Linked DNA regions of Homo sapiens: region 2 is linked to region 1. A link means that fine-mapping ties the variant in region 1 to the expression of a gene that starts in the linked region. Tissue or cell type: spleen. Region 1 holds a variant in brackets; the other region holds the start of a gene. All regions are shown on one strand. Distances are between the middles of the regions.

Region 1 (2,756 bases):
TTGGGCATGTTGTGGCCAGCTGGTTATCCAGGTGGAACGTTCAGGTGCTAGCCAGTCCTGGACCCCAGAGGAGGGGTGTGGAGCCATCAGTTAGCAAATATAGGGGAACTGGAGCTGCACACCTTTCAAAATTCCCAGAGAGACAGGGGAGAGTGAAGAGGTAGGGAGCCCGGCAGTCTTTGCTGAGTACATCTCCAAAGTCTCCCCGGCTTCTTTTCCCATCCTGGGTTCCTCAGCCCCATTCCTAGTCTGTGCAGGTGCAGTGAAAGAAGTAACACGTATGAAGAGCTTGCAATGTGCCAGGTTGTCCCAGGCGATGCACCAAGTCCACATGACAATCCTCCAAGGTCACTACCACTTCTCTAATAGATGGGGAAGCAGCGATGCAGTGAGGCTGAGGATCTGCCCAAGGTCACTTGGGAGCGAGCAGTGGAGGGATTCACACTTGGGGCCGGTCAAGTCCTTGGCTCCTGCTCTCATCCCAAGGCGACCTACTGCCTCACTAAGCCCCAGGTGAACAGCGAGGGCTGCTTGCTCTCTGTTCTCCACTGTGATCCCCTAAGCCAGGGGCTGAGGCCTTCCACTCCTCCATCTCTCTCCTGCTCTCTGTTGACTCTTTGACACTGCAGGGTCACCATCCAGTACAGCAGATCAATCTCTCTACGGCTCATCTGCTCCCACTGCATTTATCCCCTGATGGTCGAAGCTTTTATTTCCCGGTGAGAGGAGCGTCCCCTGGCCATCCCCAGGCACAGATAACTTACGGACCAATCAATACAGCCATTACCCTTTGGACCATGGCACCGACACAGGTGCAAGGAGCCAGGGGAGCAGGCCTCGCCCCTGCACCTCTGCCATCCTTGAGGTCCCTGAGCTCTGCCCAGCTTCTGCAGCTCCTTCTGGTGGCTCTCACAAGGTCTTCTCATTGTTGCCCCCTCTTCTGTCTTTCTTGAGTCCTCTTACACCATTTTGTCTACCTGAGCCTTCTGTAAATACCTCCTTTAGGGGCTTAGCTTTCTTTTCTGTCATATGGGGAAACTATTTCCTTGTCCAGAAGAAAGATGATTCTGGGAAGAGAGGAGGTG[G/T]TTTCGTCTGTAATGAGCGAAAAGCATGCATGAGTGGGAACCGGGGAGTCCTACAGTCAGTACCGAGGTTGGGGACAGCTGAGGGAGGACCAGGCTGGAAAACAGAGATTTCACTCGGGTCTGCCTCCACCACTGGAGGCTGGGAGACTTTGGAAAGGCCACCTTAGCCCTCTGTGCCTCAATTTTCTCATCTGAAATGGAGCTAGCACCGTCAATATGAAGAGTGGAATGATTATTAAACAAGGCAGGCTAGGATTATTAACAAGGCTGCCTTGTTAATAAACCATAGGCAAATTAGGTCAGGGCACTGGGTGGAGTAGCGTTCCCCAAAATTCATTTCCACTTGGAACCTCAGAATGGGACCTTAATTTGGAAATAGAGACCTTGCAGGTGTAATTCTTCCTGTTAAGATGAGGCCATACTGGATCAGAATGAGCCTTGAATCCAATGACTAGTGCCCTTACAAGAAGACCAGGTGAAGCCACAGAGACACACGGGGAAGATGACCATGGGAAGACAAAGGCAGAGATTGCAGCAATATATCCACAAGTCAAAGAGCACCAAGGGTTGCCGGCAAACACCAAAAGCTAGAGACAGGCATGGAACAGGTCCTCCCTCAGCACCTCCAGAAGGAACCCGCTGGGCTGACACCTTTACTTTGGATTTCTGTGCCCCAAAACTCTGAGATGATATATTTTTGTTACTTGAGCCACCCAGTTTGTGGTATTTGTTATGGCAGCCACAGGAAACACATAGAGTTGTTAACACGGTAGTGGGAGAGATGTCCTTAATGCAGGACCCATTCCTGCTGCCCAGTGGGGTTAAGTGAAATTCTCTATGGACATGGGCAAGGTGGAAGGAAGGGGGCAAAACTACCCTTCCACATCTTGCATTCCAGTCGAACCCATACCTGAAGAATGGGACAGCTAGCTTCTTTATGCTTTGCTCTAGCTTCTTGTCTCCTCTCTGGCAACTGTTTATGACAGTCCCCTCCTGCATTAGTCCATTTTCACACTGCTATAAAGATACTGCCTGAGACTGGGTAATTTATAAAGTGAAGAGGTTTAATTGACTCACAGTTCTGCATGGCTGGGGAGGCCGAGGGAAACTTACAATCATGGCAGAAGGCGAAGGGGAAGCAAGGCACGTCTTACATGGTAGCAGGAGAGAGAGAGAGTGCAGGGGAAACTACCAAACACTTATAAAATCATCCATCAGCTCTCATGAGAACTCCCTCACTATCATGAGAACAGCATGGGGGAAACCGTCCCCATGATCCAATCACCTCCCACAAAGTCCCTCCCTCGACACCTGGGGATTACAATTTGAGATGAGATTTCAGTGGAGACACAGAGCCAAACCATATCACCTCCCTAGGATCCACAGAACACCCTATATACAAGGACCCTATATACAATGGTAGGGGCTGTAAGCCCCTCGCAGGGGTGTAGCTTGTACTGCTGGTTGGGTGGGAGCAATGATGTCCAAATGGCACTACCACATGCATCCCTTTCACCTGGTCTTACAGTCTCAATTACCCCTGGCATTCTCCAACCTTCTCCCCATGATGGCCTTAACAAATGTCACGGCACCATGTTAATTTTCAGAAGGGAATCATTTTGAGCATCTATTAGTGAGAACAACCATGCCCCTTGTGGCCCCAGTAGAGCA
Region 2 (2,500 bases), 840 kb after region 1:
GAGCACATAAAGGTAAATATGAGGCCGGGCATGATGTCTCACACCTTTAATTCCAGCACTTTGGGAGGCTGAGGCGGGTGGATCACTTGAGGTCAGGAGTTCAAGCCCAGCCCGGGCAACATGGTAAAACCCCGTCTCTACTAAAACTACAAATATTAGCCAAGCTTGGTGGCTGGTGACTGTAATCCCAGCTACTTGGGAGGCTGAGGCAGGAAAATCGCTTGAACCCGGGAAGCAGAGGTTGCAGTGAGCTGAGATTGCACCCCTGCACTCCAGCCTGGGCAACAGGGTGAGACTCTGTCTCAAACAAACAAAAACTTAAATAAGAAGGAATCCTTGGCCAGGTGTGGTGGCTCACATCTGTAATCCCAGCACTCTGGGAGGCCGAGGCAGGTGGATTGCATGAGCCCAGGAGCTCGAGACCAGCCTAGGCAACATGGCGAAACACCGTCTCTACAAAAAATACGAAAATTAGCTGGGCGTGTTGGTGCTTGCCTGTAATGCCAGCTATTTGGGAGGCTGAGATGGGAGGATCACTTGAGCCTGGGAGTTCGAGGCTGCAGTGAGCTATGATCACACCACTGTACCACAGCCTGGGTGACAGAGTGAGACCCTGTCTTGAGGGGTAGGGAGGCAGAAGGAAAAAAAAGAGAGAGAGAGACCCTGGTGCTCAGGCCTGGTGGCTCTGGCTGGACTGATCAGGGCTGAAGACTTCAGAGACCAAAAAGGTCAAGGTGTGGCCGGGTGCGGTGGCTCACACCTGTGATCCCAGCATTTTTGGGAGACCCAGGTGGGCATATCACCTGAGGCCAGGAGCTCAGGACCAGCCTGGCTAACACGGTGAAACCCCGTCTCTACTAAAAATACAAAAATTAGCCAGGCATGGTGGCAGGCACCTGTAATCCCAGCTACTTGGGAGGCTGAGGCAGGAGAATCACTGGAACCCAGGAGGCAGAGGTTGCAGTGAGCCGAGATAGCACCATTGCACTCCAGCCTGGGTGACAGAGCGAGACTCTGTCTCAAAAAGAAAAGAAAAAAAAAGTCAAGGTGTGCGGCTGGGTCTTCATAACATCTTTCACCTTGCCCAGGCTGGCTCAGAGGTGACTGCCTTAGTGGATAGGATCCCTTCCACCGTGGGCTAGCAGCCTACCCTGGTCACTGACACCACACCATGTAGGAAAGAATCGCCACCACCAAGAAGGGGCCTCTCACCTCTGTATAGGCTGTGTGCTGGCTGATGACGTGGTTGCCCTGTCCTGTCTGCTGCTGCCACTGAGCTGGACATCTCCAGGCTCCATCTCTTGAACCATGGATCCCAGCGTTGTTAGCAATGAGTATTATGATGTTGCCCATGGAGCAAAAGATCCAGTGGGTCCCCACTTCCCTGCAGGACATCACTGCTGTCCTGGGTACAGAAGCATATACTGAGGAAGACAAATCAATGGTGTCCCATGCACAGAAAAGCCAGCATTCTTGTCTCAGCCATTCCAGGTGGCTGAGGTCTCCACAGGTCACAGGGGGAAGCTGGGACCTCCGAATAAGGCCATCCAAGGACTCCAGCAGTTTCCGCCAGGTGAATCCAGCTGCCTCCCAGAACAGGCCTTCTATGGGGTGGGATGGTAAGTTGCTGGAAGGACGTGCATGGGGCATCATTGTAGCAAACTCAGTCCCCCTCCTCCATCTCTCCCTCTCCTCGCTCTGAATCCAGGGAGCTCTAGTTTTCTGTGTAGCCTGTGTGACAGCCTTGGTTGAAACCCTTGTGTTCCGTCTGAAGAATATTTAAGGTTTCCAGTCAAGTGTACATCCCTCAAAGAAACAAAGTGGGCTTGGCATGGTGACTCACACCTGTAATCCCAGCTCTTTGAGAGGCCAAGGCAGAAGGACCACTTGAAGCCTGGAGTTCCAGACCAGCCTCGGCAACACAGCGAGGCCCCAAACTCTCTCTATATCTATACATAAAATTTAAAAAACAAAGTGTAGGGACAGGGTGGGCACTCGGTAAATGTTGGCAGGGACCCTCCTTGCCCCTCACCCATGGCAGCTCCTTGAAGAGAGGGTCAGCCTCCTCTCACCCCTAGCCTCCTGCTGCAAGGAGGTGGTGGCCTGGGGCGTCATCTGTGCTACTTGCACTTTCTGGGGCTGGGGTCCCAGCACTCCACCAGAGGACCTGCCCTGAGCGGGCAGCTCCGTCTCCAGTCCCACTGTGCCACCCAGGGTGCCTAGCCAAACCATGGGACTTTCAGGCTTGCAGGGTCAGGATGTGGCCACCAGGGGGCAGCAGGGCCTGCGCTGTGAGTATCCGAGGGGGGGTTGGGATGGGGAGTTCCAGGCTCTGATGTGAGATCTAACTCCCAGAGCTGGGAAGCTCCCTATATTTCCTGCCATATTTTCTGCTGCATTCCCAGAGGACAGGCCATGGGAGGTGATTCCAGGGGGGCCTGAGCTCTCCTCCCGAGACCGTCCACGGGGCATCCATGTCCCGGGTACCTGCTTGTGGGCT

Direction of the effects. Positions count from the first base shown, and alleles are read on the strand shown. Sizes are in standard deviations (SD) of each study's normalised expression.
As copies of T replace G in region 1, the expression in spleen of the gene that starts at base 1,331 in region 2 goes up (large effect, 0.84 SD a copy in GTEx).

What was found. PIP is the estimated chance that this variant, and not a neighbour inherited with it, causes the effect.
Region 2: it holds the start of GPR142, and the variant in region 1 is the best candidate, but not a certain one, in a credible set for the expression of GPR142 in spleen (GTEx, PIP 0.65).

What each region holds. Positions count from the first base shown.
Region 1 is chr17:73,528,085-73,530,840 of GRCh38, forward strand. The region is part of intron 1 of SDK2 (sidekick cell adhesion molecule 2); the gene reads right to left. Among named protein-coding and RNA genes, the nearest start is that of SDK2-AS1, 16 kb to the left of the region's middle. The variant G/T (reference allele first, on the strand shown) is at 1,086.
Region 2 is chr17:74,366,176-74,368,675 of GRCh38, forward strand. It overlaps GPR142 (G protein-coupled receptor 142), which reads left to right and starts at 1,331. Exons shown (of 4, transcript NM_001331076.1): 1 at 1,331-1,619. RefSeq lists an enhancer at 1,945-2,500.